3 linked regions of the Homo sapiens genome follow. The protein of the gene in region 3 interacts with the protein of the main gene of each other region in a pairwise test. Each region holds a gene or a part of one and is shown on either strand. Other genes may lie near its edges. The genes, in order: PLPP6, TMEM11 and TMEM106C.

Region 1 (3,748 bases), on a different chromosome or scaffold from region 3:
CAAATGGGATCTAATTAAACTAAAGAGCTTCTGCACAGCAAAAGAAACTACCATTAGAGTGAACAGGCAACCTACAGAAAGGGAGGAAATTTTTGCAATCTACTCATCTGACAAAAGGGTTAATATCCAGAATCTACAAAGAACTTAAACAAATTTACAAGAAAAAATCAAAAAACCCCATCAAAAAGTGGGTGAAGGACATGAACAGACACTTCTCAAAAGAAGACATTTACACAGCCAACAGACACATGAAAAAATACTCATCATCACTGGTCATCAGAGAAATACAAATCAAAACCACAATGAGATACCATCTCACACAGTTAGAATGGCGATCATTAAAAAGTCAGGAAACAACAGGTGCTGGAGAGAATGTGGAGAAACAGGAACACCTTTACACTGTTGGTGGGACAGTAAACTAGTTCAACCCATGTGGAAGACAGTGTGGTGATTCCTCAAGGATCTAGAACTAGAAATACCATTTGACCCAGCCATCCCATTACTGGGTATATACCCAAAGGATTATAAATCATGCTACTATAAAGACACATGCACACGTATGTTTATTGCAGCACTATTCACAATAGCAAAGACTTGGAACCAACCCAAATGTCCATCAGTGATAGACTGGATTAAGAAAATGTGGCACATATACACCGTGGAATACTATGCAGCCATAAAAAAGGATGAGTTCGTGTCCTTTGTAGGGACATGGATGAAGCTGGAAACCATCATTCTCAGCAAACTATCACAAGGACAGAAAACCAAACACCGCATGTTCTCACTGATAGGTGGGAATTGAACAATGACAACACTTGGACACAGGGTGGGGAACATCACACACAGGGGCCTGTCGTGGGGTGGGGGGAATGAGTTAATGGGTGCAGCACACCAACATGGCACATGTATACATATATAACAAACCAGCACGTTGTGCATATGTACCCTAGAACTTAAAGTATAATTTTTTTAAAAAAATGTGACATGCTCTACTCTGTAGCCTTCCTTCTCCCCAGATCTCCCTCAATGACATTGTTTGGGGCAAAATCATTAGACTTATTAAGGTTAAAATTGATTCCATCTCCAAATTCCAAAACAAAAATGTTAAGAGATTGTCAGTGATGACATAGTAATAACATCAATATTCTATGAATAGTTTAGTGTGAAGAAGGCTGGTAATGTTTTGACTATTTATATCACCATGTTATTCACCAGAATGGAATCTAGCCTTTATCACTGTAGCTAAATAATCTAGGTATGATCTGAGGAAACAGTAAATCTGAACAGCCTTTTTGTTACAGGATTTTAGTTACAGGATTTAACTAATTTCATTATTTTTTTTTCGCTATTTTTCTTGGTCTAACACAGTTTTTTCTAAGGTCCACAGTTTATTAATAATCCCTTTCGTAAATGTAATGCAATTACCTCTAACACCTCCAAAAACATTCAGAAATGCTCTCTTTGCTCCAGTTAAAAAAATGCCATGGGAGTTCCAAGAATAGGAAACATCAACCAGGGTATTTAGCACTAGATTGACAGAACTTGGCTCAGACCTGCATTACAAAAGCAAGTGTTCCGACTGCGGTTTTGCATTGTGCTGAAGTGCTTTCGGATAATTTTTTTAAAAATGAAATTTACCAAATAATGCTGTAAGAACTCTGTTCTTTATAAGAACTCTCAGGTTATCTTCAGACAACAAAAGCCAATGAGAAAGTCAAGATCACCTTTTCAAATCTCATGCTCTCCTGAATCATAATGGGGAACGCAGAGGGAAAGCTGTTGGTCTCCAGGTACTGATTCATGAGGTAGACCCCGAGGTACACATCTTGTTTGCCAGGCAGGAACACTCCTGGGCAAGAAATCTTAAAAAGAAAGAAAACAACAAACAAGGGAGAGAAAACAGACTTTGCTTTGTTTTGTTACACGGGGCTCTATTTCTCTTAAGCTCCTACAGACACTGACATTTTCCCCATCACCTCACTCCCTCACCTGTACCTCCCAACGCCAACATCCTCCCCTCTGCTCTCCTCACATTGGAAATTCCAACTCCCTCCCACGTCTCCACCAGGTGTCACAATCGCGCTCTCGCCGGCTCCTCTCCCCGCCCCTCCGGGATGGTAGTGCGGAAGCGGAAGAGGCTGCAGGGCCGGGAAGCCTCTGTTTGGTCCGGCCAGGTCCCGGGATCCGGGCCGCCAGCTGCGATGCCAAGTCCCCGGAGGAGCATGGAGGGACGGCCGCTGGGCGTCTCCGCTTCGAGCAGCAGCAGCAGCCCCGGCAGCCCAGCCCATGGCGGCGGTGGCGGCGGCAGCAGGTTTGAGTTCCAGTCCCTGCTCAGCAGCCGCGCCACGGCCGTGGACCCCACCTGCGCCCGGCTCCGTGCATCGGAGAGCCCAGTTCACCGCCGCGGCTCCTTCCCCCTGGCCGCGGCGGGCCCCTCGCAGTCGCCCGCGCCTCCGCTGCCCGAGGAGGACCGCATGGACTTGAACCCGTCCTTCCTGGGCATCGCCCTGCGCTCCCTGCTGGCCATCGACCTGTGGCTGTCCAAGAAGCTGGGGGTGTGCGCGGGAGAGAGCTCGTCGTGGGGCAGCGTGCGACCCCTTATGAAGCTGCTGGAGATCTCGGGACACGGCATCCCCTGGCTGCTGGGCACCCTCTACTGCCTGTGCAGGAGCGACAGCTGGGCCGGGCGCGAGGTGCTGATGAACCTGCTCTTCGCCCTGCTGTTGGACCTGCTGCTGGTGGCCTTGATCAAAGGGCTGGTCCGCAGGCGCCGCCCGGCCCACAACCAGATGGACATGTTTGTCACTCTCTCGGTGGACAAGTACTCCTTCCCCTCGGGCCATGCCACAAGGGCCGCCCTGATGTCGAGGTTCATCCTGAACCACCTGGTGCTGGCCATTCCACTGAGGGTGCTGGTGGTTCTGTGGGCCTTCGTCTTGGGCCTATCCAGGGTCATGCTGGGGCGGCACAATGTCACCGACGTAGCTTTTGGCTTTTTTCTGGGCTACATGCAGTACAGCATCGTGGACTATTGCTGGCTCTCACCCCATAATGCTCCGGTCCTCTTTTTACTGTGGAGTCAACGATGACACCATCTCATTGATTATGGCACCAGGAAGTCTGAAGGTTTCCACATTCGATGATGTCAACCTAAACCAGCAGCCATCCCGCTTGTCCCTCTTAGGCATTTCAGGCTTCCTTTGGGATTTCAGGTGTCCCATGATCTTGATGTGCTGCTAGGCTGGAGCACACACTGGCCATTACTGAACACAGCCATATTAGGGAAAGCAAAAAAACCCAAAAAATCCTCTATTGTATATTTATTCAACAACTGTTTATGTTTCCAGGACAACTGCAAAGAAAACAAGCTGAGGTGGTTATACTGTTGCTGTTAAAAGTTGGTATCAGTAAGATTTGTGTTTTGTGATAATCCCTAAATCAACATACCACTTGTAAACTGAACTTCGAGAAAGAAACATGATGTTCATTCTGTAAATATACATGCAGACAGGTCATGTACTAATCCTAGTCCTTTTCCTGAGGTAGATTTTAAACAGTATTTTTAAAGTCCAAGACATAGGTTTTTCTAGTTTATTCCCTGAAGATCTGTTGCCACAGTTGGGAGATTTCTTCTTAATCCTGATTTTCTTGGTAAGCTTTTTTACTTTATTATCTCTATAATTTATTATCTCTATCCATATTTGTGGATCGGGTAGTGGGAAAAGAGATTATAATACTTGTCTTTCTC
Region 2 (3,748 bases), on a different chromosome or scaffold from region 3:
CTATGCACTGCTAATTTGCAGATCCATTTTGAATAAACAGTTGTCTCAAGCCAAAACAAAAACAATTCTCAGCATCTATTTTCTTAGATCAATAAAAGCTTAACCTGTGCTGGCAAGGCTCCTGTTCCCTGCCTGAGGCATCCCTATTCGGCTCTTTTCAGATGCTTTTAGTCCAACAAGAGGGCGTATGTTTCTAATACTTTGTTTTCTAAACAGGTTATTTCGTATTACTGTTTGCATTGAATATCTTGAAAATGTTTGCTAGTTTTTAAGAGCATCTGAAAACCATTGAGGTAACTTATTTAAATGGTCCAATCTAATACCAGGCGGGAGTTAGAAAAACAAAAGTGTGTTTACCACTGCTTTTCCAAGGAAGAGGAAATGCAGAATGGGCAACGCTGGATAACTGGGCTAAAGAATAAAGTGCAAGCAAGCTAAAGGATTCTATCACAACTGCCAAACAGGAAGAATCTTCCCAGCTGGGAAAGCCATCTGCAAGCAATAGCAATGAACACGGGATGGAATCAGTCACAGAAAAGGAATAATGCAGAGTAGTTGAGAGGAAGATAACTTTTCTGTTAGACAATCCTCACCAAAAAGACGGGGAGGGGGAGAACCAGCAAAACAAAAACTTTTCCTTTTTTGCTGACCGCTGCTATAACAATCAAGCTTTAGCGGACAGTTAATCCAGGTGGCTCCACCAATACATCTTCTCCCAAATTTCTAGTGGCTGAACAGCTTCTAGTGGTTTCCACTAGCTGAAACTGCTTCCCAGATGCAAAAACTGCAACTTGAACATGAAACACGGAAACTACTCCAATCTCATCTTCTAGAAATCAGTTATTCAAATGGAGGTCCCTGTTGGAAGAAACACGCTCCTAGCTCCCTGCCCACACACCATTCATTAGGAAAGGTCACTTTAAAGGACTTCTACGGCAGGAGCGCTTGCACAGAACCATCCAAAAGTCTTCAGAATCTTCCCTCGAGGAAGTGGCCGGCTCTGGGCTCGGAAGAGACACATCTGGCGGGAGCTAAAGCTCCCTAGTAAACGTGCAGATCAAACTACCCCTGCCGCGGCCGGCCTGCTCTGTGAAGGCTTCCCCTTCTTTCTCTCTCCGGGGGCCCTGCCTTCCTCTACACGTCTGGGGCCGCGGCCGAGATGGCCACGCGCGTGCCCAGGCGGGAAGGGTGCTTCAGCAGCCGATCGGCCCGCGGGCAGCTAGGCGGGTCCCTGAGGCCTGCGCTGGGCGCCAGTTCCTTTCAGCACGGCCCGGCCTCGGGCCCCGCCCCGCATGGCCGCTGCCTACCTTACTCAGCCCGGCTAACGCCCCTTCCCCTAAGCTCTCCGCCGAGGCCTTCGACCTCGCTCCCACCCGGATCCCGGATCCTCCGGAACTGGAACCCAGTATGCCCGGCGAGGGTAGGGGGAGCGCGGGGAAACCAGGGAAGGAAGGCTGCTGCAGCCCTCGGAGGCCGCGCTGGGCTCTCCGGCCGCTGAGCCGCCTGCACTGGGGGCAACAAGCCCTTGGATCTCACCTCTCTCGGGCGCTGCCGCCACTGCTGCCCGGGCCAAGACGCCTCCTTCCCCAAGCGGCCATCTTGGAGACACTCTGCTTGCCAACGTCTCGCGCCAAGGCGGCATCGGGAGAGCAGGCGGGCCGACGGGAAGTGTAGTCCGGCCTGCGGTCCGGGGCCGCTCGGCAGGCGGAAGCCAGACCCGGCGGAACTACCGTGCCCACAAGGCAGCGCGCCGGAAGCCCCGCCCCCGGGGTCGCCGGGGCCCGTAGTCCTTCTGCGAGGGCGCGAGGACTCCAGGAGCCGTCCTGGTTCGAGCATTTCTGAAGAAACTGAGTTCCCGGCGTTCGCAGCCTGGGAGTCACAGGCGCCCACCCACCGGTAGGTCCTTGAGTTTCGAGAGCCAGTAGCTGAAGGAGAGAGGAGAGGCAAGTGCCTACAACTCCCAGAGCACTGCGCGGAGGCGCCCGGCCGCGCTGTCCTGGCCGCCAGGCTGCCTCTCCCGCTGGGGGCCGCCGCGCTGTCTGCGGGCTACTAGCGCCGGGCCCCTCCGCGTCGCCACGCCTGCCCTTCACAGCCTTGGCCCATAAGGTCACCGAGGGGCGGGAGGCGCCGCCCGGGCCCTCCTTGGAGGCGGGCGCTGCTCCCGCACCATCCTCCCCCAGTTCTCTTAGACTCCGGGGTACTTTGGAGGCCGAGACAGACACGCTGTCCCTGCTGCCACGGAGGTCCCTGCTTGCAGGTGCAGGCTGTTAGAGGAGAGGGTCTGAAAACAAGAAAGGGGAATAGCTGTATGATAACTGCTTGAAGGCGAGAGGGCCCAGCGACAGCTCTGTTTTAGACAGGGCCTCCAGGCCTCTTAGACTCAGTCCCTGCCACGCACCCACTCCTGCCCTGGCCGCTGCGACGGCATAATCTCGGGATCTTTGAAGGCAGATGCGGGGCTAAACCATCCCACCTGACGGGAACCCTGCCACAGGACCCGACATATCCCTGTCTGGACACTGCTGTAACGAGTCAAAGTCAGGAAGGACTAACTGGAGCCCAGAGATTCCCAGGTGCTGCTGCCTCAGACCTGTGGACTCTTTGGAGGATCTCTTACAGTTTGTGAACTTCTCAGTTCCTCTACTGCTCCCACAGACAACGTTGCTAAACATATTAATTGGTCCCATAAATACTTGAGCAAAACAAATGCGAAAATCTGTCCCGAATTCAGCCTAGAAGAAGCCCAGCCCTGCGCGTCACACTTCTGTGTAGTGGAACCCCCCTTCCCACCCCGCCGCAGGCCACAGCAGGAGGGCCAGCAGACGGAAAGGCGACCCTCTCCTTGTTGAGGATTCCTTTCGATTTCCTTCCAGCTGACATTCTACCACAGTTTTAGCTGCTTGCAATCCTCTCACCGTCCCTCATCACCTACAGTGTGTGATTCAAATTCCTTAGCACAATCAAGAAGCCCCTCCTTAGTTTGGAAGTTGCCTAGCTCTCCAAATTCAACTGCCTACCTTTCCCGTCTGGAACTTGCCAGGCTAGTAAATTCAGAGGGTTTGCAGATACGTAGATGTTCTATGCTTTACCTAAAATGCTTTTACCTCCCAGCCAACTTTTTTTTTTTTTTTTGAGACAGAGTCTTGCTCTGTCGCCCAGGCTTGAGTGCAGTGGTGCGATCTTGGCTCACTGCAACCTCCGCCTCCCAGGTTCAAGCAATTCTCCTACCTCAGCCTCCTGAGTACCTGGGATTACAGGTGGTGCCACCACACCCAGCTAATTTTTGTATTTTTAGTAGAGACGGGGTTTCACCATGTTGGTCAGGCTGGTGTCCAACTCCTGACCTCATGATCCATCCCCCTCAGCCTCCCAAAGTGCTGGGATTTACAGGCATGAGCCACGGTGCCCAGCTCTCCCAGCCAACTTTTGTCCTTCAAGACCTTGTACCTGTCTGGTCTCTAAAAAGTACCTGGCCTTCCTGTTGAGTCATACAGCCCTGCCTCCAAGTGTCAGCGTAGTTCATGCTGGAGACCTCTTAACAGTTCCATGGTATGACACTGCGGATATGGCTGTCTTTTCTTTGTATCAGTGTGGTGATTCAGAGGGTATACTAGGGATTCTAGAACGCACTTCTGGCTCAGGGGCTGCTTGTGTAACTTCTGTTTCTCAGCTGCCTGGTTTGTATCATGGGATGATAGTATCTCCCCTCAGAGGATTGCGGTATTTCATGAGGTGATACGTGTATGGA
Region 3 (3,748 bases):
AGGGGTTTGAGGCCAGCCTGGTCAACATGGTGAGACCCGGTCTCCACTAAAAATACAAAAATTAGCCAGGTGTGGAGGTGTGCGCCTGTAATCCCAGCTACTTGTGAGGCTGAGGCAGGAGAATCGCTTGAACCCGGGAGGCGGAGGTTGCAGTGAGCTGAGACTGTGCCACTGTACTCCAGCCTGGTCGACAGAGCAAGACTCCATCTCAAAACAAACGAACAAACAAACAAACGAACGAAAAGTGCTTTCTAACCTCTTACGTACGTGCCTTTTTTGTGGAGGTCTGGGGAAGGGGGGGCCCTACTACCGAATGAATCTACTCCTTGGTGCCTCTTGGCACCTAATTGGCTTGCAAAGCTCAGCTGTGGGGTCCGTTCCTGCGAGAAGCCAGCAGGACTCCCCATGGAAGGTTTCCCCCAGGCTGGGCCCCTCTGACTTGTGAGACTTCCAGCAGCACTTTTATCTACAGTATTGGAGGGGTCTGATGAAGCCTCTGGGTTCCCCTCCTGGACTGAAGACAGGTTCTGATATAATTGCCGGACGGGTTCTCCTTGCCCGTTGCCCAGAGCTGATTCATCAAGACAGGGGAATTGCAATGGAGATTTTAATTCATGCAGAGCCGGCTGAATGAGATACCAGAGTTTTATCACTCAAATAAGTCTCCCCGATAATTCAGAGACTGGGGTTTTTTAAGGATAATTCGGCTGGTAGGTATCAGGCAGTGGGGAGTGCTGATTGGTCAGGTTGGAGATGAAATCATAGGGGGGTCTAAGTGGGTTCTTCTTGCTGTTTTCTGTTCCTGGGTGGGATTGCAGAACTGGCTGAGCCAGATAACTGGTCTAGGTACTGCCAGCTGGTGCCTCAGAATGCAGGGTCTGAAAAATATCCCCAGCACCGATCTTAGATTTTACAATAGTGATGTTATCCCTTGGAGCAATAGGGAAGGTTTGGAATCTTGTGACCTCTGTCTGGATGACTCCTAAACCATAATTTCTAATCTTGTGGCTAATTTGTTAGTCTTACAAAGGCAGTCTGGTCCCCAGGCAAGAAGGGGGTTTGTTTTGGGGAAGGGCTGTTATCTTTGCTTCGAAGTTCAACTATAAACTAAATTCCTCCCAAAGTTAGTTTGGCCTATACCCAGGAATGAACAAGGGCAGTTCGGAGGTTAGAAGCAAGACGGAACTGGGTAAGTCAGATCTCTTTCACTGTCATAATTTTCTCACTTACAATTTTTGCAAAGGCAGTTTATCCGAATGCTCCGCATGTGTGTACCCTCAGCGACTACACAGCTCCTGTACTATAAAGAATATTTCAGAATGGCTTCGGTAGCCGGCAGCACCTTCCTCCTCTCGCAGCAGAGAAGTGTTTTGCTCTGGAAACTTGACTGGAGCCTTTCCCAGCCTATCTAGCGAACAGCAGAGCATCATCCCGACTCCGCGGACTACCGCGGCCCAACAGCAAGGGTCGCGGCTCCCCGGCGCTCTCTGCCGCCCTCTACCGGAACCGAGGGAGCCAGACAGCTGCGATATTGGGAAGGCCTCCGGAGCCGCGAAGAGCGCACGCGCGAGCGCGCGCCCGCGTTCTCCTGGCGGGCTTGGTATTTGGCGCCTGCGCGCTGAGTGCGTGCCGCTCCGCCGACCGAAGAGGCTGGTAAGTCCTCAAGCTGGCAGGTGGTCGGGGGAGCGGCCGGAGAGGAGCTGCCGGGAGTTCGTGCCCTGCAGGTCTGCGACGCTGGCGTTCGCTCCTGCCTGGGCCACTTTGGTGGGCTCAGAGCATCGCTTTTTGCCAAGGGGCGTGACCTGAGCCCGCCTCCTGGGGCTGGGGGGTGGAGAGGAATGGGAATCGTTAAGGCCGGTTATCAATTTGGTGCCTGTTTGTTGCTCGAGGAGGGGCATAGAGCTTACAAATAGTGAAGAGGAAGGGGCGAGGCTGGACCAGGTGGGAGCGGGGGTGCCCCAAGTCCCAGGGCGGTGAGGATCGAGGCAGGTGCGTGAAAGGCAGGCCCCGTTCCCCCTCCCCACCCCCGCCGGCTGTGTGTGGCGGGTAAGAGGAGAGTGGGTAGCACTACTACAAAATGAGGGTCCCGATAGAAATCGTACAGGTGTTGGGACCACACTCAGGGCGGCAACTTGTCATTTTTGCGTTTTTAATTTTCTTATAGAAACAAGCGATTTCTGTCGTGATTCACTGGGGCCGCTAACGTGCACTCCCTCTTTTCATCTTAGGACATGACACCAGTGGCATATCACGGCCATGGGGTCTCAGCATTCCGCTGCTGCTCGCCCCTCCTCCTGCAGGCGAAAGCAAGAAGATGACAGGGACGGTTTGCTGGCTGAACGAGAGCAGGAAGAAGCCATTGCTCAGTTCCCATATGTGGAATTCACCGGGAGAGATAGCATCACCTGTCTCACGTGCCAGGGGACAGGCTACATTCCAACAGGTGATCATGGAGGGATGATTCCCTGATGAGAATCCCAAGGTACCCTCGGAGTTCTCCTGTCTGCCCAGACAACTTTTCTTCTAGGCAGTAATACCATAATAGAGACAGTGCCCTGGACAGGAGCCAGCTCAACTGACTTAATACACTTGGGCAGTTCTGCAACTTCTCTTCCTCTCCTTATTTTTCCAACCCTTTCTTTTCTTTACCGCCACTCTTGTTCTTTTCCTGAGGTTTGGAACATTCAGTTCGCTCTGTGTTGTGGGATTTGTTGACAGGCACATTTCTTTATCGCTGTCACAAGGATTGGGACAGCTTTGCGGGGGAACCATCTTGGAAGCTGCTTTTCAAGGAAATGGGTAGCTAATCCTTAACAGCCTAAGGTCAGAAAAATATATCAGGTCAAGAGAGAGAGACAAATACTTAGCCTTGGTACAGGATCATCTATTACTATTAACAAATTGGCCCTCAGAAAGTCTTTAACAGTTTAGCTGGAGAGTCACAGAAATTTAGAGCTGGTTAGGACCTTCAAAATCATTTACTCCAAAGCTTCCATATGAAAGGCAAGGAAACCATGGCCTTGAGAGATTCGACGACTCTGCCAAGCCCATGCAGTAAAGCCAGAACAGGATCCCAGGTTTTTCAACTTCCACATCACTACCCTGGCAGCACTGATAGATGTTTTATAATTTGTGGCACTCTCTTGTTTCTTGTTCATTAGACCCAACATGTGAATTTCACTAGTATTTTTTAAAATGTCTCATTCCAGAAGAATATTTGTTGTGGCAGGCTCAAGTGAGACGTGAAGGAAGTACTGCCAACACATGGGATTTACAAAATAATTGTTTGGCTCTTTTCTAGAGCAAGTAAATGAGTTGGTGGCTTTGATCCCACACAGTGATCAGAGATTGCGCCCTCAGCGAACGTGAGTTACCTGCTTCTCACCTGTTAATACCTACTTCTGTCCCTAATCTCTTTCTGTATGTATGAATGCCAGTTAATTCTTTGAAAACTACACATGTTCTTATAAGTTCCCCATTTTCCTTATAACTGTTTGCCCAAGCAAGATATCTCTGCCCCCATCACAATCTGGGGAAAGAAACTTGAAGCTGGAAATGCTTTGAAGGTCAAGGAATGGAATCAGAAGAAACTGGGAAAGTGGAGTGTTCTGGGAGGTGTGGGACTGTCTCTGTCCACATAGCTCCTTTCTTCAGCTTTTCTTCCCAGAGTGCAAACAGTGTTTAAAGGAGTTTTAAAAGGTTTCTCCTGCTTCACTGCTTCTTAACTGGTTTATGGTTCCTGGCTCTT

The links.
Region 1: the proteins of TMEM106C (region 3) and PLPP6 interact in binary tests that used the Homo sapiens proteins (3 or more experiments, as listed by UniProt).
Region 2: the proteins of TMEM106C (region 3) and TMEM11 interact in binary tests that used the Homo sapiens proteins (3 or more experiments, as listed by UniProt).

Annotation. Positions count from the first base shown.
Region 1 is NC_000009.12:4,660,175-4,663,922, forward strand, and holds the start of PLPP6 (polyisoprenoid diphosphate/phosphate phosphohydrolase PLPP6), read left to right. Parts: upstream 1-2,119; 5' UTR 2,120-2,201; coding exon 2,202-3,089; 3' UTR 3,090-3,748. Other genes in the region: SPATA6L (spermatogenesis associated 6-like protein), read right to left, coding at 1,725-1,862. UniProt on the Homo sapiens protein: Magnesium-independent polyisoprenoid diphosphatase that catalyzes the sequential dephosphorylation of presqualene, farnesyl, geranyl and geranylgeranyl diphosphates.
Region 2 is NC_000017.11:21,212,555-21,216,302, forward strand, and holds the start of TMEM11 (transmembrane protein 11, mitochondrial), read right to left. Parts: upstream 1,608-3,748; 5' UTR 1,599-1,607; coding exon 1,537-1,598; intron 1-1,536. UniProt on the Homo sapiens protein: Plays a role in mitochondrial morphogenesis.
Region 3 is NC_000012.12:47,961,981-47,965,728, forward strand, and holds the start of TMEM106C (transmembrane protein 106C), read left to right. Parts: upstream 1-1,615; 5' UTR 1,616-1,724; intron 1,725-1,817; exon of another isoform or gene 1,818-1,989; intron 1,990-2,228; 5' UTR 2,229-2,256; coding exon 2,257-2,443; intron 2,444-3,301; coding exon 3,302-3,365; intron 3,366-3,748.